3 linked regions of the Homo sapiens genome follow. The protein of the gene in region 2 interacts with the protein of the main gene of each other region in a pairwise test. Each region holds a gene or a part of one and is shown on either strand. Other genes may lie near its edges.

Region 1 (8,646 bases), on a different chromosome or scaffold from region 2:
TATGTTGTCTAAAAGAATATATGGACTTCTTGGGCTAACCTAAGGCCTTCCTTTCACTTTGTCTCCATGCCTATCATTTATTCCTGTTCAGCTAGCCGGGCAGTCAAGCCAGTCATCTCTTTAATCCTATGTATGTGTCTCTGCCTTGTTGTTCCTTCTCACCCCTTCCCTTGATATTAATTTCTGACCAAAGCATCCATGAAGGACAAACCTCACACTCATATCTTCTAAGAATCCTTCCCTGATTTCAGACAATACTACTCTCATAGCTCCCTTGCTCTATGTTCCCAAAGCACTTATATATAATCTGGCCTACAAGAACTGTGAATTTGAGTAAATAATGCCTTGTCATTGTCAGCATTTTTATAAGCTGGTTAACCATTTGGAGAATATGACTACAATTGGATATGGGGAGTGGGAAATTCATAGAGCTGATTAATTATTTAGTGAATTGGTTATTATGTGAATTTACCTACAGCCAAGAAGGAAGATTGGGAACAATCATAAAGGGCCTAGAAGATATGATAAAGAGTTTAGATTTTATTGAGTATATTAAGAAGCCATTGGAAGATTTTGACAGAACAGTAGCATGATCTGATTTATGCCTTTTTAAAAAAATCCCTGGCTGGCCTGTGAAGATGTATTGTGGTGGGACAAGATTGGAAATAGAAGAAAACAGGCTTTTGGTGAGAACTGATGGGATATATGAAGCAAGAGGGAAAGAATCAAGGATGACTCTTGGGCTTTTGGCTTGAATGGTGTTGTCATTTGTTGAACTGAGGAAGAATTGGAAGGAGCCAATTTTGGGGGGAATCCAGAAATGAGTTTTTAGACAAGTTAGGTTTGAGATGCCTGTTAGATATTAAAGTGAAGATGTTGAGTAGGCAGTTGAATGTGAGTCTAAAGATCAGGGGTGAAAATACAAATTTGAGAGTAATCAGGATATTTATTGATAGTATCTATAGCTATGGGTCTGGCAGGGCAGTAAAGGTAGATCCAGAAGAGATGAGGCAAAGGGCTGAGGCCCAGGGCAATTCAATATTCAGAGGACTAGAAGAGGAGATGCCAGCATCAAGGCAGCAAGGACTGTAACTTCTACTTCTTTTGTATTGAAGCAGAGTGCCTGCTTCAATGCTGAGCTCACAGTAAGTGTTGAAAAAATTTCCTTCAGTGAAATGAACAAATAAATTGCTGGTAAAATAAGTAAGTAAATTGCCATACCACATACCTCTTCTGTGTTCATGCCAGAGCATAAGATCATTTTTTTGCCACAGTCTAAGTCGCATACTACAATGGAAAGTTCCACACCTAGCAAGTACCTACTGGTAGTTTTGTGTGTGTGTGTGTGTGTGTGTGTGTGTGTGTGTGTATGCATTATAAATTACATGTTTTGGCCCAGCACAGTGGCTCACACCTGTAATCCCAGCACTCTGGGAGGCCGAGGCGGGCAGATCACGAGGTCAAGAGATTGAGACCATGTTGGCCAACATGGTGAAACCCCATCTCTACTAAAAATACAAAAATTAGCTGAGAGTGGTGTCATGTGACTGTAGTCCCAGCTACTCAGGAGGCTGAGGCAGGAGAATCACTTGAACCGCGGAGGCAGAGGTTGCAGTGAGCCGAGATTGCACCACTGCACTCCAGCCTGCGCGATGGAGCCAGACTCCGTCTCAAAAAAATGAAATAAAATAAAACAAAATAAAATAAAATAAATTACATGTCTTAAATGCAGACTTCTCTTCTTCCTTTACTTAAGTACAGATAAATAGCTTTAACTATTATTTAGCAAATGGAAAAATTTCTGACCCAGTGTGTTCCTGGGATACATTGGTTGTTGTTTCATTAAAGGATACCAAACTTAATCCTTGGCAATCCATCAAAACCATATATGTTCAAGTGCCAACAAGAGTGAAATGATTTTGGCCAATTTGAAGAAAATTGGTCTTTTTTTTTTCTTTTTCAGTTGAGGTACATGTACTTAAAATCCCTCCTGGAATACACCCAAATTACAAAAGAAAACAAAGTTACCTACTAAAAATTAGAAGGAGTGAGCAAGAGAAGCTTAGGTAGTTATCCATTTTTTTAATTCGATTTTATGTAATTAACATTGTTCCAAATGTTGTATGATACCATTTATATCCTAATAGTGTTGTAAGTTTTAATAGATCATTGCAGAGGATACAGGATTATGAGCAAGACATTTCCAACTAAACAATAAATCATTGCTACCATCCTTTGGTAGGGAGTTGCAAATTTTGATTCTGTCTGAGGGCATTTAGCACAAGCAAGCTTTTGAATGGCTGGAGCTAAATGGAGACTTAAAAAGAAAAATTATCCCATTTAATTGCCAAAACTAACAGGACCATGCAGTTTAAGTGTTCAGACATTTATGGTGCAAATGCTCATACAGGCAGCTGATGTCAGTTCTGGGAACTGGTATTAAGAGCAGTGGCATGAAACAGAGTTGATGAATTAGACAGAAAAGACAGTCCATTTTCGGATTGCTTTCAAAAAAGCAGCAAGAGAGAAGCAAAGCTGCAAAAGCAAATGAAAACTCCAGCCCAGAACTTGACATTTGAAATATCAAAATTATAGTTGGGAGAGATTAAAATTGCTGCCCAGTCTGTGATGTTTTCCACTCATCTCTCTTGGAGGATGAAAATCACTGTTTTTTTAAAGTTCTCTTTTTTTCTTATTAGCTGCCTTAGAAGACGTTTTTGTTAGAATGACTGAGTCCTTAGAAAATGTTTTTGTTAGAATGACTGAGTCCCAAAGTGAAATTTCCCAAAGTATGTGTTAAAGAACAGAAGCAGTATTAAAAAGTGAATAAGCTGCTTAAAGATCCTTAAAACAGACATATCATCTTAAATATCTAAGATACCTTCATCCATAGAAAAACAAAATCCACATCCTCCCTAAAAGTGATCAGGCTTTTAGAGCATGCCAGAAGATGATATTAATATTCAGTCTTGCATCATTCTCCTTCTTTTCCTGGACACAGTAAATCATCATCACTGGAGAAAAGGACCAGCATTTGGGAGAGCTTTTCATAGCCTGTGTAATTAAGTTAAGGAATTTTAAAGAGGAATTTTTCTAAGTCTCAGAGGGAAAAAGTGTTCTCTTTATATTAGCAGTACAGACACTGTTGTGTTCCAAGAATGGACACCAAGGATGAATTCAATGAATTCCCTCTTTGTATCACACATTTGTACCAGGTTCTTTTCAGAAATCAGGATTTTTAAAAGCAAAAAACATTTTCTTTCTTAGATGTTGCAGTTAACTTCATGTAGTGTAGGTAATATAGCTGCTGCATTTAAAACAATCCTATATACTTTATCATCCTCACATAGTTCTGAGGACTGGGATAAGTCCTGTTGTGTGGGACAACATTCAGAGTAAATTTGGGCATTAAATAAATGATAGTGAAGAATCTGCCTCTTTTTAAACCTGTAATGAAATGACTTTCCTAGTCAAGAAATATACATTTTCTGTTCTTTTTTAATCTGATTATTTGCCTTTCTACTAGGAAGCATCATATTTTTCAAAGTGCCTGCATCATCTCCTCAGAGGATCTCTGTCTTTCTCTTCTGACTCAACACATACATACATTTCTGCTCTAATCTACAGTAATACTTTGGAGTAGAACAACTGACATAAGATGTTTTTTATAGAGAAAAAATTACATACCTTTTTCTTCTTTCCTTTTGGTCTTGGCAGAGGATGCTTCTTAAATGCTCACACTCACTGGGTGAGTTTGGGCAAAAGGAGAAGAGAGGAGGTGCTGGAAGGAGCTTCTTTACAAATGAACCTTTGTCTGCCTTGTCTCTGGCCTGGGATCGACAGACTCGCTGCTCCAGCCAGGACTGTGGGGAGGAGGGGAGTGGAAGGAGACAAGGCTGCAAGGACTGCCTCCTTTGGAAGTGTTCAGTTTGTTCCAAACCAGGCGAGAACGAATAGAACAGCTTCTTTACAGAGGGAAATAACTAGTCTATACAAGAACCTCAGGGAGGCAGACTCTGGTAGCAATAAAACATAAAACCTGAGGGATTTTAAAAGAACACAGAGTGATTTTTCCCTTAAGAAAAGTGTGTGTGTGTGTGTGTGTGTGTGTTTGTGTGTCTGTGTGTGAGAGAGAGAGAGAGAGAGAAGAGGAAAGTGGGGAATGGCTAGCTGCGCACCTCTTCCCCTTTCACAGTTTTCCTAGCCATCTAGATCTGTTACAAAATCCTGGTAGAAGATACGTTCCAATTCACCTTCCATTTCTCACCCAAAGACTCATTAGTAGTCAATGGAAAGCTAAAATGATGACTAAAAAGAAATGTATTCTGTGCCTTAGAAATAAAAGCACAAAAGAAATTTTATTCTGTTTTCAGCAAACTATACTGGAATTCTAGCATCTGTTAACTGTTGTTTAGGTTTTTAAAAAATTCGATTAGGAGTAGTGTTTTGGGAATTAGAGATATTATATTGTAATGGAGTTGGAATTATCTAGACAGACAATTGAGGCAAGGGCATTCCAGGTTGAATTACAAAGGCATGAAGGTGAAAAAGAGGGTGACAACTTCGGAGATTATAGGTGGTTTCATTTGGCTAAAACCAAAGGTGGTAGGAGATGAAATTTGAGAGACAAGAAGCAGCAAATTGATGAATTACCTCATATGCCATGCTAAAAAAATTGTTTTTATCGTGAAGATGAATGGAAAGATGATGAAAACATATTAAAAAGGATGAAAAGCCTGACTGCAGTGTGAAAGAAGGATGGTTTCCTGGGAGGAAAGGAGACTAAAGACAGAAAATACCGGCTTTTGCTGTAGTCCAGAAGGGAAGATAGGAAGGAAAACTGAAAAGACCTGATGACCACTTAAGTGTTTATGTTTAGCATAGAGATAGGAAATTTTATTAACTTTCAAAGGCTTGGGCCTTTGGACGATGATACTGTTAATCATCTAGAAAAAGGATATAAAAGGAATAACTGTTATTCATCTAGGAAAAAGAATACAAAAGTTTTGGCTGGAGGAGGAGTGGGAAAATAGAAATGAGTTAGTTGGTGAACGTTGAGTTTAAGGAACCCTAAATACAGTTGAGAATGTTTAGTAGGCAGTTGGTTAAATAGACCTAGAGCTTAGGAAAAAGCCTGGTCTAGAGAATTAGTTCATCAACCAATCAACTCAATATCAAATAATCTCAACTAAATAACTAATGCAGGTATTCAACTAAATGATAGCCGAAGTCATGGTTGTACCACTAAGAAGTTACTGTGCTCTTACTGTGTGCCAGGCATTTCATACGTCTGAACTCGTTCACTCTCCTTCCAACCCTATGAAGTAGGTACTATTATTAGTCCCATTTTATAAACGAGGGGAACATCAGAGATGTCAGGTAACCTGCCCCAAATCACACACACAGCCAGAAAATGGCGAGACCCTGGCAGTGTGTTTCTAGTGTCTTTGTTTCCCACCATTATGCTGTACTGCCCCTTAGAATAGATTATAAAGTTCATGATACGACTGAGAGCAGAATTATTCAAGGAATGGGCAGAGAACTGGGAAGGAAACTGAGAAGAGGTAGCCAAAGAAGTAGGGGAAAATTAGGAGAGTGTCATCATGGAAGTTAAAGGAAGAGTATTTCAAGAGAATGGAGGTGAATGGAAGGCTGCTAATGACAGCAGTGCTGGGAGAACAACACGTGCACACCCTGATATGAAGGTAGGCAGAGCAAAGAGAAGGTCAATACAACCAGAAGCAGTTCCAGCCCTGACAGAGATCAAATCTCTGCTTGGTCTCCATTTCGCTGAAACTGGAGCAAGTGGCATGGACCTCAGGAAGGGAGATGAGAGGTGTGTGCGCAATGGACTGCACATTTCCTTTGCATATTTATAAACAAGTCTGCTGTGATTCTTACTAAATAAAGATGATGCCATACACAGATGGAGTTAATTTGTTTGCATGATTTAAATGTATATAAATATGTGAATATGAGGAGGAAAATGGAAACTAGCCTTTATTCCACTTTAAGAGCTATCCGTCCTGTTTACCTCAGGTAGATCTAAACAGAGGTATGGTGCCAAGGCAAATCAACATTCCCTGTAGATGGATCCTCTCTTTACTCTGTTTTACTCTTATTTCCCTGTGTGTCTAATTCTGTCTAAATTTCCCTTATTGTGTTGCTTATTTTGTCTCCTTGTGTCTGAATTCATAGCTGCTCAAAATAGTTGATTCATTTTTATATTCAGCAACACTGAAATCCATACAATATGCTTGGCATTGTGCTTATGAATGCTGCCTGTAAGTGGTACACAGCAGCTCTTGGTAATGATCTAATCATCTCTGGATCATGTTCTGAGCCACTTAGGAAAGTTTTCCCCTAAGAAGCACATTTGGACCCTGGCCTCCAAATCCCTTGTGTTTTCAAACATGTGTTTATTACTAGCTGGACTTCCTATCATTTCTAGGAAGAATCATTAAACAATATCAAACTTATAATTGCTTGTCATTCATCCTGATGTCCATTACATGGGGATGTCCTTTTGAGAAGGAGTTCAATTCCAAACCAAGGCCTGCAATCACAGAGTCTGCCTTTGTGGTTTTTAATTTGTGGCTCAAATCTGAAACCACTCTTTGTTTTCCTGTAAATGGAGCCTTAAGGCCTTTTAGTTTTCTTTCCTGATGGGCTGTTACTCAGACCTCTTATCGAACCCGCTTTATGTTGCTCTGAAGACCACCTGTTTCTTTGAGACGGCCTCAGGAGCCTCCCAAAGTGAATCTTTTATGTGACATAGAGCTTCTATTTTAAGTAAAACCATCCAAATGTAATGTACAGATTTCCAGAAAATATGTCCAGCTATGTATTTTTATGTGATGATGATGACGATGGTGATGATGATGTGTGTGTTTATTTCTATAGGTATATGTTATCACTCTTAGGTGCAGTCAGGTTTGTTAGAAATAGAAAATCCTCACAAATTAGTGATAAGACCAATTCGTGAGTAGAGAAACATTTTATACAGAATTTAAGCAATTACATTCAAAGTACTGAAATTAAATTTGTAAAGAGACCTAATTAGTATTTCTTTTTAAAAAAAAAAAAACCTCCCAAAATTGAAAAATTGAGAAAAACACCAAAAAACAGCAAAATCCTTCCAATCAGGTGAAGTCTGAAGAGATGTCTCAGATATAAATAATTTCAGATATCAGACATCTTAAGCTTGTGAGAGAAAAAAAATGGAACATGCATTAGTTCTTCCTCTGATGTCCACCTGGGAGCTCATGCATTCACCCTAATTTAGAATCTGCTGCTCCTCTGTTCCATGATTGACCCCTTTCTCTCATTTCCCTCAGGCTTGACTCCTTCTGGGCTCACCAAGGCTGGCAGTATGGGGAGAAGCAGCAGCTGGTTTCGGCCTTCACAGCTCACATCTTCCCAGGAGAGAGGTAGGACTTTTTTTATGTGAGTATCCTTGACAAAAGGAGCCTCAAAATAATTGCACTTATTGAAAACTAACTCACAATATGCTTGTTGAAATGGTGATGAACTGCGACAAAATCACCTCTTAAAACTACCTTTAAAATCTTTCATCAGTTAAAAAGAAACAAGCTATTTTACTAACTTATTTTTGAACTCAGTAAAAGAGTTTCCTCTTTGATTACAACTATATAAAGTTTCCCTTAAGATATCCACTGAACCTTGGACATTTATGCTTAGAATTGTTTTTGAAAGTGGGTTGAACAACATAACCTCTATTACCCAAACTTAGCTTTATGTTGCTGAAGTGAGACTCAGGAAAACAGGTTCTACTGAGGAATCGTCAGTAAGGCCCTTGAAGAGACAGCAGAATCACCAAGTAGCTGTTGTGTAAGAGGGTGAACTGATGCCACCTCCCCTGCAGGGAGAGAAATGCTTCCATGAGGTATTCATATTGGAATGCAATTTCGATGGTATGATGTACTTGGGAATGGCTAGGATTCCCAGATGGGCAACCCTGGCTATAATGGGGATAGCCAGGAGAGTCTTCTTGATCAAATGCTTTTAGTCAGAATATCAAACACAAGCTCTCTTTTCCCTGGGCATAGAGAGTAAGGCACCCACCTTCGTCTGCGCCGCCCCGGGAATGCTGGGCTTTTTAACAGAATTGATACATAGAGACTGTAAGGTTACTCATGTAACCATGAGTAACATGATTTTCAATGCTGCAGAAATAAAGTCAGAAAAATGAACATCAGGAGAGACCTGTGTCCAAGAAAACTATCCACTTTTAGGAGCCCATGGAATAGTTAGAATGAATGGTAATGTTAATATGAAAATAAACTTTGGCAAGAAAAGAGGCCAAGAAGGAAAGGAACATGAAAATAACCTTTTTAGTTTCCTGGCAGTCTCTAAGGGGCATTGGACTGGTCCATGGAATCACAGCCCAGAGCCTAGCAATAATTTTATGATTTATTGGAGACAACCTACTCACTTACCAAACCTAGAAAGATGGAAAGATTGACTAAGTGTGTCAACGTGTATTCTTTCGTAGGTCCTGAGTTATTGCCCTAATCTTCTCAAAGCTGTTTCACAGACACAAGCATCTGGTGAGTTGATAATGTTAATGATAATAGCAATGATACTAGTAATAATAATGCTATTAACTGCATTGCCAAGTGTGCT
Region 2 (7,893 bases):
GGTGGGGGCAGGGTCGGGTGGGGGCAGGGTCTCGCTCTGTCACCCAGGCTGGAGTGCAGTGGCGTGATCGTGGCTCACTGCCTTAAGCTCCTGGGCTCAAGTGATCCTCCCACCTCAGCCTCTCGAGTAGCTGGGAATACAGGAGTGAGCCACCACTCCTGCCTAATTTATTATTTTTTTTGTAGAGATGGGGTCTCGCTGTGTTGTCCAGGCTGGTCTCAAACTCCTGAGCTCAAGTGATCTGCCCACCGTGGCCTCCCAAAGTGCTGAGATTATAGGCGTGAGCCACTGCAATCGTTTCAGCATGTAATCAATATGAAAACATTATGAATGAGATAGATTACATTCTTATTTTCATACTAGGTCTTTGAAAATGGGTGTGTAATTAGCATCTCAATTCAAACTAGCTGCGTTTCAAGTCTTAATAGTCATGTGTGGCTCATGGCCACCATATTGGATAGCTCAGACTTAGCAAAATATTGCATTGTGGCACAGATCTCTGGAAACACAAAGGGTTTTAGATTCAAGTGGGCCTGGTTCCAAAGTAAATTTGCCCCTTTATCATTGGGATGGGCAGAAGAAAGCCACTGATGGGTGCTGTGGTAAAGGGGGAGCAGTTCAGTCATGCCAGGGGAAGAGGAGGGTGACAGGAGAGGCATGTTGGGGAGATGACACTTGAGCTCAGCCTTAGAGGCAGAGTGGGGGCTTTGTCAAGCAGTCACAGTGGGAAAGGACATTCTTTGCAGAGTATGCAGCTTGGGCAGAGGCCCAGGATTTTGAAAGAGCCCAGTGCTCTTGGAGAACCACAGCAGTTCTTTCAGCTTGACTAGGATATTAGGAGTGGGGGCCCTGCTGAGAGGAGAGGCTGGAGAGCTGGGCTGAGGCTGGACCTTGCACCACTGGCCACCACTGCCCCTGTCATTCACGCCATCAGCAGCTCTTGTCTGGCTTATTGGCAGGGGCCTCCTCCTGGCTCTCCCTGTGTCCACTTTGCCTCTCCCCTTGTTGTCCCTCCTCCATTTAAAAATGGAAGTCAGATCATGTCACTTTTCTGCTCAAAACCCTTCAGTGGCTTTACATTTTACTCAATCAAATTGGAGGTATCAGGGTCCGCCCCCACTCCTCTCTGATCATACCTCCTTCCACCCTCCCTCCTGATCACTTCTCTGCCTGTACTGGCCTCATTTCCCCACCCTGGGGCCTCCACACTTGCTTTTTTCCCTGCCTGGAACGTGTTTCCCTCAGATACACAAATGGCTCCCTCTCTCACTTCTTATCTCTTCCACTCCATTCCCGTCTCTGTTCTTCAGAGAGAGCCTTCTCATCACAAAATAAAATGATGCCCTTAAGTTTTTTCCAAAATGCTTATCACTACCTGGCATATCACATCTCGACGTGTTCATTGTCTGCTTCCATCCTGAGCATGTAGAGGCTCCAAGAAAGCAGGGGTTTGTCTGTTTTGCTCATTCTTCAGTGCTTGGTATTCAAGAAATATTTGTTGAATGGATGACTACATGAATAAATAAACAACAAAACCTGAAACGTAGCAGCCTTTAGTAAATGTATGTTGATTTGAGATTTTTGTTGAAGTGCTTCCCTTTGCATTTATTTATTTTTCTCAACTTTATGTTTGGAAAACATCAGATACACAGAAAAGTTGAAAGAATGGTTCATTGACTGACCATATGTTCCCAACTTAGATTCAAGAGTTGTTAACATTTCACAATTCCTGTATATATTCTTGGGTGTGTGTGTGTGTGTTCAAGTTAAAAGTCAGTTACAGGCTGGGTGAGGTGGCTCACACCTGCAATCCCAGCACTTTGGGAGGCTGAGGCGGGCAGATCACCTGAGGTCAGGAGTTCAAGACCAGCGTGGCCAACGTGGTGAAACCCTGTCTCTACTAAAAATACAAAAATCATCCAGGTGTGTTGGCCCACACCTGTAATCCCAGCTACTCGGGAGGCCAAGGCAAGAGAATCACTTGAACCCAGGAGGCCGAAGTTGCAGTGATCATGCCATTGCACTCCAGCCTGGGCGACAGAGTGAGACTCCATCTCATAAATAAATAAATAAATAAATAAATAAATGTCAGTTACAGAAATATGACACTGACCCTTTGCATTTACAAGTTGGTTCTAAAGAGTGGTGAGTCAGAAGAGACGTCAGGCAGCAAGCGACTTGGGCCATGGCCTCTGACCTAGACTTCTCACCTCCGGAGGTGCCCGAGCCCACTTTCCTGGAGAACCTGCTACGGTACGGACTCTTCCTGGGAGCCATCTTCCAGCTCATCTGTGTGCTGGCCATCATCGTACCCATTCCCAAGTCCCACGAGGCGGTGAGTTTTTCCCTGGGAGCCTCAGCTCCTCTGAGTGCCAGGCTGGGTTCTGAGTACTAACAGTAGGTGCCACCACAACTGAGATCAGCAGGGTCTACATTGGGCCTTTTTGATTTAGTGTGCCTCTGAATTTCCACCTGGTGGGTTGAACCACATAGCTAATACTTTATTTGTTCATGTACCCATTAAGGAGATTTTTATTTAGTGCCTACTACATTTCAGACTCTGCTGAAGATGTAGTGTCTGCACCTGAGGAGCATCTAGTCCTTGGGAGGAAGGCAGATAACAAAAACATACCTCCATGTGCTCCCATGAGAAGTACAGAGTCCAGTGAGGCTATATAACAAGGGGGAGAGAGACCTGATCTTACCCTGGGCTGTGGGCCCTGCCGAGGAGGCAGTGTTTGAGCTGAGACTGAAGGAATGAGCAGGCTTCTGCCAGGTGAAAGTGGGCAAGGGGCGAGGACAACATTCCAGGGAGAGGGCACTGCACGTGCAAGGGACTCAATAAAGGAAGGGGCTAATTCAAGGAACTGAATGAAGGTGACTGTGGCCAGAGCACAGAGGGGGCATGATGAGTGGTGCAGCCAGAGGTGTGGGCAGGGGCCAGAGGGTTTTAAGTGTGAGAATGACATGGTCAAATTGGCTTTTTTGTTGTTGTTTTGACTCTTCTTCTGTAAGTATCTTTATAACTATACACCCTCCTTCTACCCACTTTCTTGCCCACTCCCATTTGCTCGTGACATTGATTTATTGGAGAAAGCAGGTCGTTTGTCATGTGGGATACCTACATCCCAGGAATTGGCTATTGCTTCTCTGTGGTGTCATTTAACGTGTTTCTCTGTTCCCTGTGTTTCCTGTCAACAGGAGTTCCATGTAGAGGCCTGATTCCATTCCAGTCAGGTTATTGGGTACGAATACCTCAGAGCTGGTGCTATGTACTCCCTACTGTGTGGCATCAACAAGCAGGTGGTGTCTGGCTGCTGCACATTTAGAGATTCTTGGATTGATCGGTGGGTTTAGGTGGTATCAGCTGATCCCTCCATTATAAAAATCCGGTCAGTCTTTCACCTAAGCGGTTTTAGCATCCATTGATGGTCGTTGCTTAGATCCATTATTTCCTTCTGCATCTGTTAGCTGGAATTCTTTAACAAAGACCTTTTCCTTATCACTTGTATGATTACTCTGAATTGCTCTTCATAATGAAAAGCAGGAAAAATGCTTGGTTCTTTCCCTTTATTTATCAATTTTCAAAGTTGTGAGTTCAGACTCTAGCAACTTCCAATGATGACCAATGAAGCTTTGGTTTTCATAGCATTCTGAACATATTTTTAATATATTTAATATGTTTTAGTTTTTTTTTTTTGAGGGCACTTATCTGCCATTAATTTGTTTTTTATGTTCAGTGGGAGCCCCTTTAAGTTGATGTCTTTGTTCTTTGTCATACTTCATTAGTCTTTGATAGCTTCCTTGCTTCATGGTTCAATAAGATGTCACAGGCTCTTTTTTGTGTGTGTGCGAGACAGGGTCTTGTCTGTTGCCCAGGCTGGAGTGCAGTGGCACAATCACAGCTCACTGCAATCTCTGTCTCCCAAGTTCAAGCAATTCTCCTGCTTCAGCCTCCCAAGTAGCTGGGACTACAGGTGTGCCACCATGGCTGGCTAATTTTTGTATTTTTAGTAGAGACACGGTTTTGCCATGTTGCCCAGGCTGGTCACAAACTCTTGGGCTCAAGCCATCCACTTGCCTTGAGCTCCCAAAGTGCTGGAATTATAGGCATGAGCCACTGCGCCTGGCCCCAGGCTCATTTTGTACATTTCCTGCCCCAGTCTTGGAATCAGTCATTTCTCTAAAATGCTCTGGTTCTTTTTAGCTAGAAAATAGTATCTAGAGGCTACAGTTGGGACATTAGAAGTTTTCAGTGCTACTGAGCTGTGATTGCATCTAGGCCTTTCAATAAACAGAAATAGAAAATAAACATTTTTTAAGAAATGAAAAAGTTGTGAGTTCATACTGGTATTTCCAATTCAAATGTAAGGTGATAGTGTTTCTATTTATTTGATTTTATACTAGTGTCTTGTAACTCTTTATCTTATGCTGGAAATCTTGTTCTCAATAACATTAACAAAATGATGTATCTGCTAGATCCTACTGAATCTGAGGTCCCCAGGACCACCCCAGGTTCAGTGATGCACTAGGACTCTCAGCTGTGGCAGTGAAAGGATACCAGGTATGGCGGCACAGGGAAAAGGTACATGGGGCAGAGACTGGAGGAAACAGGCGCAGGCGTCTGAGTGCTCTCCCATTGGATACCCACAGGAAGGATTTGTGGCAATGTGTGTGAAGTGTTATCTAGCAGGGAAGTGAGTTAGAGACTCAGTGCCCACATCTCTTACTGAGGACTGGTTACAGAAGCACCCTTGGCCTAGCATGTACCAAAATTCCAGACTTCCAGAAAGCAAGCAGGTGTTCAGCATGAACCTTATTGTTTACACAGTATAGGCGTGGTGAGCCACTCTTATCATTTCTGGGAATTGTGAGAACCACCTGGAATCCAAGTTCCCAGATGCCAGTCAAGGGCCAACCTTGCAAGCATGCTTCTCTAAGATTAGCAATTTATATTAACTTTATTCTGCTCATCTACAATATACCAGTTACACTTTTAAAATAACTATATTTTTTACTACTAAGACTCAGAATGAAATTTAAGACTTCTTTGTGATTCTTTTTTGGCCTTAAAATATGTCTTTGTGGAGATACAAGGTCAAAATGTTGTGTTTAGTAACTATTTTTCTCTGTGTAGGTCTCCCATCATGAGATATAGTTTGGTTAATTTGCTTCAATCTGTTTTTAATTTTTAGAGATTTTTAAAATTTTGATTTAATTTGTTGTTTTAATTATATAAAACATTTATATACAATATTTCTCAAAGTCAAAACTATATAACAAGGTACATTTACAGAAGTTTCCTTTAATCTCATTCTCCTCCACCCTATTCCCTTCCTTCCCACATAGTTAACAGTTGTTATTAGTTTATCTTTCCTTTGTTTCTTTTTGAAAACAGTAACAAATGCATATATATGTGTATGGTGTGTACATATATATTTATATTCCCCCCTTCATTAAATAAAAGATAGCATACTATTAAACACAGTTTTGCAACTTTCTTTTTTCACTTAACATACGCAATATGTTCTGGAGATCCATATATCTTGGATATCACTGTTCCTGGAGATGCTGCTTCTGTAGCTGGGAGGATGATGGGGAATTACTGATACAATGTGGAACCTATTGATGCAGTGGAGAACTATGGTGAAGGAACAGGCTTAGGGTGGGTGCAGGGAAGGAACATGCCAAGTTCAGTTTTAAACAGATACTTTAACATGTCTGGGTGGTTCTGTCAAAAAAGCCGGTGGATTTACAAGGTCTCTAGCAGGAGGAGTGCATGGGCTGAGTGTTGACCAGCATGTGGGAGTTGATACGATGTCATTTGAAGCCACGGCAGGGGACAGGGTCTCCTAAGGAGAGAATGTGGAGGGAGATGAGAAGAGGACCTAGGCCAGAGCTGGAGGGGCTCCAGCATAGAGGGCACAGGCAGGGGAGGAGCAGCCAGCAAGGGTGGGAAAACCTTGGTGAACAGGGATGGGTTCGTGGCCTCTAGGTTGTCTTGTCCATCTCTTATTCTGGTATCTTGAGAAGGAGATCACTATTGGCGTTCTTCCACCCACAATTGTATCGCATTTTAAAAACATCACCTCTGTGCTCCTGGGCTCTGTCCCTGCAGACGTGGCATGCTATTCGGTATTATAAATAACAAATGTGGTTGTTGGTGGCTGATGAGGCCTGCTAAGAGTCCCGAGGGAGGGAGGTGATGAGCCTTCTTGTTTTATAGGCAGAGGTGTGTGGCTGTTTGGAGAGCAGGGAGGCTGCTCACCTCCTGTTGTGTTTGAAGCCCTTAGAAGTAAGCCACAGAAGCCTGGGTTAGTTCAGCAAACTTCAGAAAAGGAGCCCCTTTATTGTTCTCTTTAAGATTTTCAGTGGGATAGTGCGTTAAAGTCTTTTGAGGCAGGGAGTTGATGAAGGGTTCAAAAATATGCCATCATACCCCCCTACCCACTGCCATTTAGAGGTTACTTTTGGACAACAACCTCATGTTTTTAAATTTAAATATAGTACATGACATCTCTCATTTTTATTAATCTTGCATTTAGGGAAACAAGGCTCACACAAGTAAATTGTCTTCATAACTGAAGCTTACTGTTTTAACTTTTTTTTTTTTTTTTTAGCTTTTCAATGGATCAGTAGCAAAAAAATACAGTACTGTTGATCTAACTTTTTACTGGCGCATCAGGGGAGCAAATGGCCCCAGGTTATACAGGGGGTTCTGTCGCTAGCTCTCTGTGTGTCTCCATAAGGCAGCCTTTCTCACTTCCGAAACTCCTAACTAGATAGAAAGGAAACACAGCATTCTGTGCATAAACAGGATTACAAAGAGAGGGTGGATGCTGAGACTGTGCTGCTTAGAGGTTGTCCCTAATAGCTGAGATTTGGAAGGAGTTTGGAGGGGAAAGAAGGGGGTTTTAACATGGGGACGGGGTACTCTTAGGGAGAAAGGGAGCCCATGGGAGTGGGGGCAGCTTGTAAGACACTAGGCAGCCAGAGGGCAGTTGGGAGATACCTGGAAGTGGAGGGTGGCAGGAGGTAGGAGAGGGGGCAGAAGTGAGGGTGGGAGGACCCAGAGAACAGTCTTGCCCTCTTTGCCGTTTTGCTCAGGGCAAAATCTTCCCTCTTGCTTAGCCTATAGAAACAGGGTTTATTAGTGGCTTTTTGGGTCAGAAGATAATATTTTTGGCTCCAGATGATGGGAAAGCCTTTGAAAAGCAAAAGAATGTTTCCTGTTCTAGTAAGCCGATTTTTTGCAACTTGCTTATGACTTCAGTATTTCAATACTTAGCAGATTATTTGAAAGCTCTTTTGGGGTTAATCAGGGAGGAAAAGAGGGAACACATACAAATGCTTCCCACCCCACCCCCTTCCTTTTCATAGTAGGAGCAAGAGTCAATTTGTAAAATCAAAAACCAAGTCCCTAGAATCGTAAGCCAAATGAAAAGGTTTTCTCATTGGCAACTCATTAAACTCAGACCTAAGAAAACAAACATTTGTTTGAGCCTGATGGAGGCGTGGGCCACACTTAATCCAAGCATTTTCTTGTAGGCTGGATTCTAAAATAGAAGATAGTAGGTCCTAGTACCATTTCCATCTAGTCCAGGTTAGCTGGTAAGTTTCATCTCTCATGCCAAGTCTGATCAATTGCTTGGTGGCCATGGTGAAAAGGATTCTGGGGGCTGCTGCTTTGCTCTGGAGGAAAGAAATTGATCAATGATGTCTGTTTGCTGTGAGCTGGGATTAGAGAATGACAGTGCCGGTCCTTGGACTGGCCAATGATTCTCCACAAGGCTGCACATAGAACCATCTGGGGAACTTTCAAAGGCCTAGACCACACCCAGAGATTCTGATTCAGTTGTTCTCTGAAGCCTTGGATCAGTATTTTCTTTTTAT
Region 3 (8,623 bases), on a different chromosome or scaffold from region 2:
TAAAAGAGAGTGTGGGATGGCTCAGGAATCTGAATGTTCACAACACTTTGCCGGCAGTTCTGTACACAGCCAGCTTCTCTGCTGCCTAGGCACGGTTTGGGGCATCCTGGAGGACTGTTCTTTGTCCTCCAGTAAAGATGTCTGATTTTGTTGTATAGGGGCTTCATGGTCAAAGTGTGCAAAGAGAACAATCACAAATCATCATGACAAGTGGTGCTGCTTGGGCTGTACTTCAGGAGCATCACGAATTTTTTTTTTTTTTTTTGAGACAGAGTCTCACTCTGTCACCCAGGTTGGAGTGCAGTGGCATGATCTCAGCTCACTGCAACCTCCGCCTCCTGGATTCAAGTGATTCTCTTGCCTCAGCCTCCCGAGTAGCTGGGATTACAGGCATGCACCAGCATGCCCGGCTAATTTTTGCATTTTAAGTAGAGACAGGGTTTTACCATGTTGGCCAGGCTGGTCTCGAACTCCTGGCCTCAGGTGATCTGCCCACCTTGGCCTCCCAAAGTGCTGGGATTATAGTCTTGAGCCACCATGCCCAGCCTACAAATATTTTTTATTTAAGTAGGCAGCACACACAAAACTGCACAAATCAGTCACGTGCAGCTCAGTGAAAAGGTACAAAATGAACAAAACTTAAAAAGTGAGCACACCCATGCCACTGTCACCCAGATGGAGATGCTTCCAGAATGTATCCCTTTACCCTCAAAGCGACTACTCCTTTGACTTCTAAAGGTGATCAGTGTTGCTCATTTTTTAATGTTATTATTTACTTATTTAATTTTTTAAAAGAAGAGATTGGGTCTCACTCTGTCGCCCGGGCTGGAGCACAGATCATGTAGCTCACTGCAAGCCTCGAATTCCTGGGCTCAAGCCATCCTCCTGTCTTGGCCTCCAGAGTAGCTGGGAATCAGGATACCTGGGACTACAGGTGTGCACCATTTTTTTTTAAACTTTATATAACAGGAATTATACACCATGTTCTGTTCTGTGTCTGTCTTCTTGGGTTCAGCATGGAGTTTGTAAAATTCATCCATGCACCTGTGTGTAGCTCCATATTGTCCTTTCTTATTGCTGCATAAAATTCCATGTTCTACAGTGTATTTATCCATTACGGTATTTTGGAAATTTCCAACTTTTAGCAAGTATGAATAGTGCTGCACATTCTAGGGCATATATCCTCATTTCTCCTGGGTGTATACCCAGGAGTGACATTGTTGGGTCATAGGATACTCAAATGGCCATGTTAATAGAAATGACCAAAAAGTTTTTCTTTTTATGTGTTTGTTGTCGTTGTTTGTTTTTTGAGACTTGACTGTCTCCCACACTGGAGTGCATGATCTTGGCTCATTGCAGCCTCAAACTCCTGGGCTCACACAATCCTCCCACTTTGGCCTCCCCAGTAGCTGGGACTATAGGCATGCACCACCATGCTCAACTAATTTATTTATTTCCTGACCTTTTCTTTTCTTTTTTCTTTTCTTTCTTTCTCTTTCTTTTCTTTCTCTCTTTCTTCTCTTTTCTTTCTCTCTTTCTTTCCCTCCCCCCTCCCTCCCTCCCTCCCTCCCTCCCTTCCTTCCTTCCTTCCTTTTGTAGAGGCAGGGTCTCACTATGTTGCCCAGGCTGCTCTTGAACTCCTGGGCTCAAGCAGTCCTCCTGCCTCTGCCCACCAAAATACTAGGATTACAGATGTGAGCCACTGCACCCAGCCAACGGTTTTCCAAAGTGGTTGTACCAAATTCCCCTCTGTCCAACAGAATACAAGAGTCAGAAATGGGTTCAGATCCACGTTAGTGACCTTGGGAAAGTTTTTAAGTCTCCCTCACCCTCAGTGTTTGCATCTGTTCCACGGGGCTGCTGTGAAGACTCAGTGGGAGATTTACCCTGGCAGGAGCTCCATCAGTGAGATGTCACTCTTTCCTGAAAAACTCTGGGGTCTTCACAGATCTATGCAGGTAATGCTCCTGCTCTAAAACTGAATAATCTTCTCAGAGAGGTCCATCAGAACAAATGATAAGTTCAACTCAGCTCCTCTCATATGACTGGTTCTTCCCATCTGAACACATGGGCTCGCTTCTTGTTTCATATTAGTTGCTGTTCACCTTTTATATCTGAAACAATGTCAAGTACAAAAATCACTGATATTTGGTGAGCGCCTTAAAAGCCCCTCCTTCTCCCTGAATCCCACACAATTCTATCTCCTTGCAATTCCAATCACTCTTGGTTTAATCATTTCATCCATATCGTGACAAGTTAGAAAATCTTGAAAGTGCTATGGGGCAATGTATAATAGTTGGTGCATTGGCACAGAACGGGGACTTTATATAAAGACATATCATCTTTCCAGAGTGTTCCAAAAGAACTCGAATATTGATATGTGTGTGTGGGGTGGCGAGGGGGGAAGGGAATTAACTAGGATTTAACTAGCTAAGGCTTGAAAGAATATTTGCCTTTTTCATCCTTTTCCCATTCCTCTCCATTTGGCCTTTCTGCGTATACAAGCTCCATGAAAATTCAATGGTTTCTTGGTACATTGAATTTGCAAGACAGTTTGATGACATCTTATAAGCTTGAAGATATGAATACCTTGTGGACCCAGACATTCCACACCTAAGGCTATTCCTAGAGACATGCATTCTTATCTGCACCAAAGGTACCTGAGGCAGTAATGTTTAATAGCCCCAACTGGAAAAAAAACAGATACCCATCAACAAGATGATGGATAAACAAATTGTGGCATATTCTCTTGATGAAATACTATACAGCAGTGAAAGTGAATGAATCACAGCCATGTGTGACAACAAACAGGTGAATTTTTCTAAAATTCGAAACAGATTAGGATGTATGAATCTTGTTTTTTTTGTTTGTTTGTTTTTGTTTTGTTTTGTTTTGTTTGACAGAGTCTCACTTTGTTGCCCAGGCTGGAGGGCAGTGGTTTGATCTTGGCTCACTGCAACATCCTGGACTCAAGGGATCTTCCCATCTCAGCCTCCTAAGTAGCTGGGACTAGGTTCACATCACCATGCCTGGTTAATTTTTATTTTAAAAAAGGTTTTTGGAGAGACAGGGTCTTGCTATATTGCCCAGGCTTGTCTCAAACCCCTGGCCTCAAGCAATCCTCATGCTCTGCCTCCCAAAGTGCTGGGATTACAGGCGCAGACACCGTGCCCTGCCAGATGAATCTTAAAGACATAATGTTGAACCGAAGAAACAAGAAACTGTAGAATATATACTATATGATTATTCCATTTATATAAAAGCCCAAAAGAAGCAAAGTAAAATTGTATTGGTTAGGAACGCATAATAAGGTAGTCAAACTTTTTTTAAAAAAGCAAGATATGAATACCATAAAGTCAGGTAGCGATTATTGCTGGAATAAGGGGCTGTGTAAGCGTGTTGGCAAAGGGGGTTCTGCAGAGGTGGTGATGTTCCATTTCTAGCCCTAGACTTGATTTCATGAGTGTTCATTTCAGACCAATTTCTTAACTCCGTACCTTTATGTTTTATGCATTTTTCTTTGTGCTTATTGAATTTCACCACACAAAAAGCAGAATGGGAAGTAATCAAAGTGGTTCTGGAGAGACGTGAGTATCAAGCAAACTATACCACCCAGAACCCCTATCCAGCCAACTAGGACCTGGTTAATTATTTCCTCCTGGGAGTTCAGACTTGTCACCTCTGGGGTCTCCAAGGTAGAATAAACCTTTAATTCCAACTTGCAGGAGTCCTTGTGATTTGAAACGTTCACAGAAGTAACCCCAAACCACTCTCTCCACTTTCAAAAATGGTCTTTTGCTAAACAGAGCAAATTTGTTTAGAGACTGACGAATCGCACCTCTAGACACAAATCCCCTTCTCTTTTCTGTCTTTTAAGTTTTTTTCCTGCCTCCATCCTGCCTTCTCCTTGCAAGATGCTGGGGAGCGTCCGGCTGTCTGCAACCGAAATGGAACGGGGTGGAAAACAGGCTTTCCTCCCAGGGGAGGAGGAAGCACCCCAATTCCCCCCTCCCTGCCTCCCAACCATGCGACGCTCCCCTCTCTCCCCCACAAACTCCGCTGAGCCCGGTACCCCCGCGCCTCCACGAGCCTCCACGATTGGTCGCGGGCCCTCATGTGTCGACACTCTGGGTGGGTCCTTCTACTGTTAAACTCATCAATTGCTCCCCTTTTCCGTTTGCTGGCCAGTGGTTCAGACCTTTGCGCCCATTTTTTTTTCCTCTTTACCTTCTTCTACCCGCAACCCTCCACACCAGTCTTATTTTAGCAAAACCTAGAGAAGGAGGAGGTGGAGGGATTTGGAGGGTGGAGAGGCATTGCCGCATCCAGGGGCAGCTATTGAGTGGCTAAGCGGAGGGCGCATACCTCTCTCTCTCTCTCTTTTCCCCCTGTTGGGAATTTTCAGGATTTCACTGCTGCAATTTAACCCCAAGATGAGGCACCATTGAGCGAAACGCTGTGCGCACATACACACTCACACTTCCTCCGGGAGCAGAAGAGGCAGCCGTTGGTGATTCAGGAAGAAAAAAAATTTTTTTTTTTTTTTTTAAACCTGGACCCTGCGGTGTGAAGACTCCTTAGGAACCCTCTGGAGCGTCTTACTCCCCTTCCCTCCTCTTTCCCTTCCCTTTCATCTTCTTTGTTTTTATTTTATTTTATTTTTGGAGCTACAGATCTTTCAGCATTTTTAAGGTCTAGGAACTCCAGCAAAACAGAAGGGCACTTAATTTTTTTTTTTTTTTTTTTTGCCCTCCCCACCCAGACCTGGGTTTCGTCTTTCTTTATTTTTAAATATATATATATTTTTTTATTTTTTATTTTTTATTTTTTTTTAATGGGCCGAGCGCACTCCTTTTGCAAGATGCCAGCCTGACCCGGACCTCGGAGGAATTTGAAGCTTCCACTGCGTCCCGGGGGGGGCGTCCTTTGCAAACCGTTCGCGTCTTAAAGGGGGTGTGCGTTGGGTGGATTTTTTTTTTTTAACTGTCTCTTTTTTTTTTTTTCCGGAGTGGGTGGACTGGGGATTGCCTGGATTCCTTCCTCGGTTATTTTTTGCCTCGCTTCTCTCTCCCCTCCCCCCTCCTCCCCGGGCCCCCGCGCCCCGCCCCCGCACCCTCCTCCCGCCCCTCCTTCTCCGGGGTCAGCCAGGAAGATGTCCCGAGCTGCTATCCCCGGCTCGGCCCGGGCAGCCGCCTTCTGAGCCCCCGACCCGAGGCGCCGAGCCGCCGCCGCCCGATGGGCTGGGCCGTGGAGCGTCTCCGCAGTCGTAGCTCCAGCCGCCGCGCTCCCAGCCCCGGCAGCCTCAGCATCAGCGGCGGCGGCGGCGGCGGCGGCGTCTTCCGCATCGTTCGCCGCAGCGTAACCCGGAGCCCTTTGCTCTTTGCAGAATGGCCCGCTTCGGAGACGAGATGCCGGCCCGCTACGGGGGAGGAGGCTCCGGGGCAGCCGCCGGGGTGGTCGTGGGCAGCGGAGGCGGGCGAGGAGCCGGGGGCAGCCGGCAGGGCGGGCAGCCCGGGGCGCAAAGGATGTACAAGCAGTCAATGGCGCAGAGAGCGCGGACCATGGCACTCTACAACCCCATCCCCGTCCGACAGAACTGCCTCACGGTTAACCGGTCTCTCTTCCTCTTCAGCGAAGACAACGTGGTGAGAAAATACGCCAAAAAGATCACCGAATGGCCATATCCTTTTGCCCGAACCCCAGCAGCAGCTGCGCCTCCCCCTCCTCCCTCCGCCTCCCCTCTTCCAGGCTGGGAGAGAGACCCGGGGGTTGATGGGAGGTGGGGAGGAGGGGGGTCTTCCAGGGGCTGGGAGAGGGGGCACCGGGAGGAGTGTGAAAGAATCTCTCCACCCCGAGCTGGGTTGAGCTACCCTGGAGGCTTGGGAATGGGTTTGTGGGGGGCTGGGGGGTGGGCAGCGGAGAGTGGATCCTTCCCAAGGACCGACTCTAGAATGAGATCTGGGGCCTGGGGTCGTGCAGGAGCCTTGGTGGGGGCTTTCGAGCCAAGTCCGGAGGGTTTGGAGTTCTACGGAGTGAGCTTGGAGCGGGCTCGGGCCTGGGCGCTTCTGGCCAGGGCAGGGGAACTATGGGGGCCTTGGTTGGGTTTTCTTGGCCGTCGCTCACTGGAGTCCACGCAGGGGAAGCTGGACAGCCTCTCCACTACTGCTTTCCCCAAGGTGGGGGGCCGCCGCACTTTTAGGGCAGGGCGCTTGGGGGCTCCCAGGGCTAAGAGCAAGAGGGAGTCCATGTGGCCTTCACACTGAGAAGCCAGCACTGGCCGAAGTGAGTACCCCAGGGTGGGCCGCTGTTCCTATCTGGAGAGGATAGTGATGGGCTGGGGGGCGCTTATGTTTCCCTCATGTGTGCAGGTCCCATTGCCTTTAACCGCTGATTGGGGAACCTCATCATCTTTGGGGGTGTCGAGAAAGAGATCCCACTTGCTTTATCTGGGCCCCTGGCCTGGGAAGACCTGATCTGGACACTTTCAGTAAGAAAGACAGGGCAACAGCAAATGAGGTGGTGGGTCCATTTTAGAGCACCATGTCCAGCTTTTCCTACCCCGAGTAGCCGAGAGGGAACACCAGGAGAATCAGCACCCATGTGGACATCTTAGGTAGGTAAATGCCTTTTAAATTTTTTTTTTTTTAATCAAAGATCCAGAGGAAAAAGGTGAAGCCCACATTTTCTTCTGTGGAGATGCTATCAAAATGCAGATCTTCTGTGTTTCTTTAAATCCCTGCCTGCTTGAAATAAACCTTGAGGAGGGCTTAACATCTATCGAGATGTAGGCAGGCAAGGGTGGGTAATTAGTCGGGCTTTCTAGCAGTTATCTAAGCATGACCCAGATTCCAGGAGGGGGGACACACCCTGCTGCCCAGGCTGGCTGGCCACTGTGCCATGCCCAGATGTGCCGCTTCTCCGCACAGTTCCAACCAGCTGCCCTCTGTGTAAAAATGAACGGGCTGGATGGGTCCCTGGGGCTCAGCGATGAGTCCCCTATCCCTTTTGTATGTGGTTTTGCAGTTATAGACTAAACGGGGCTGGGCCCTGTGTGGTCTCCGGGGGTTGCTGTTTGAGGAGCATGGCGGGTGGTAGAGGGACTCACTTCAGGGGGGTTCAAAATCGAGCCTGGCGCTTGGATCCTGGGTGCTGGGATTGCAACAGAGGGCACTGAGGTTTTGGAGTGTGTGAGTGGTCTACTTTGAGGGTGGGGAAAATTAAGAAGTTCAGCAGAGGTGCTTTTGAGGGGAGCATACCTCTAACTACGATGCCATCTCCGTTGGTGCCCAAAGCAGGTGCCAGGTCTTTGCTTCCTAAGTTTCAGACTCTTAAAGAGGCTGGTTCTTAAGGTTAGCAATTCCTCACCATCCCAGGCCCATTGAAGTGCTCAGGGGTGGCTTGATTACTCTGCCTATCAACAGAGTGAGGAGTGGGAGTGCCTTGCAGGAGGACAGGGTATTCATGGGTGCACACCCAGTTAGCTCCAGGAGTGAGAGGGCTTTGCTCGGCTGACAGGTTTCCTCATTGAAAATGGCTTTAGATCGCCTTCTGGAGCCTGGATTTGGAGACTTCTAAGAGGAAAGGAAGGAGGTGGGGAGCCCTTCTGCTGTGTCCTTAGCTTACCTCTGTCCAGCCTGAATCCTGCAGATTGGAGGGCTGTTGGGGGAGAGGGGGATTGCAGTGGCCCCTCGGAAGGGGGAATCGTGGGAGAGGGAGGCAGGTGAATTGCGAGTGTTGCTTGCCACTTCATCTATTCTCTGGCCAGCTCGCCCGGGGCTTTCTTGCTCTTATGATGAGTTTGTGCATTATGCTCTCTGCAGACTGTTTTTGTTCTCTTTGACCCGAGGTAACAAACACATTATACAGCCCTACTCTGGAAGGGAAAACTCCCCACCTCACAATCTGTCATCGAGCTGGGTCATCCAGGACTGAGCTTTCTCTGTCCTGGATGGAGCGGAGGGCGGTGGCGGGGTGGGTGGGAGGGTTGGAGATGAGAGGGGATGGACAGAGACCTGGGGAGGGAGGTAGTGAATAAAAGAATTCAGGCCAGTGTAAAGAGAAAGACACGTGGAATGTCAGAGTCACGATACCAGGGCAGAACATTCTACTTTTTAATCTAAATATTTCTGCCATTAAAAAAAAATGTTTCAGCATATCCTGAGAGTGAAAAAAAAAGTGTGTAGGTACTTAAATAAAGTCTAATATATGTACAGGCAAGTACATATATTCAGATGCATAGATTTTTACAAAATGAACACACCCACGTATCCAGCACCCAGGTCCCGATCAGTGCCCTGGAAGTCCCCCTCCCCATACCGCCTCCTAGTTGCTCCCCCAACAAGGGTACCGCTCACCTGACTTCTAAGGTTCATTTTGCCTCTTTTAAACATGTAAATGGAGTCACACAGTACGTTCTTTTGCCACTGGCTTCTTTTGCTCACATCTGTGTATGTGACTCTACTACAATCTATCCATTCTACTGTTGATGGGCATTTGTGTCATTTCTGTTTGTGCCACTGGGAACATTCTTGTGTCTTCTATTATTTTTTTCCCACAGTTCTCTTAGATAGGAGTGGAATCGCCCCTGCTACTTTTTGATGCATGTGTTGTGGGATGTGTATTT

Evidence for each region.
Region 1: the proteins of MANBAL (region 2) and SCRG1 interact in binary tests that used the Homo sapiens proteins (3 or more experiments, as listed by UniProt).
Region 3: the proteins of MANBAL (region 2) and CACNA1A interact in a two-hybrid assay, tested with the Homo sapiens proteins (one study listed by BioGRID and IntAct).

The regions. Positions count from the first base shown.
Region 1 is NC_000004.12:173,395,381-173,404,026, forward strand, and holds the start of SCRG1 (scrapie-responsive protein 1 precursor), read right to left. Parts: upstream 3,737-8,646; 5' UTR 3,688-3,736; exon of another isoform or gene 1,962-3,687; intron 1-1,961.
Region 2 is NC_000020.11:37,299,079-37,306,971, forward strand, and holds part of MANBAL (protein MANBAL), read left to right. Parts: intron 1-2,092; exon of another isoform or gene 2,093-2,129; 5' UTR 2,130-2,185; coding exon 2,186-2,335; intron 2,336-3,201; coding exon of another isoform or gene 3,202-3,222; exon of another isoform or gene 3,223-5,483; intron 5,484-7,893.
Region 3 is NC_000019.10:13,502,989-13,511,611, reverse strand, and holds the start of CACNA1A (voltage-dependent P/Q-type calcium channel subunit alpha-1A), read left to right. Parts: upstream 1-5,132; 5' UTR 5,133-5,387; coding exon 5,388-5,680; intron 5,681-8,623.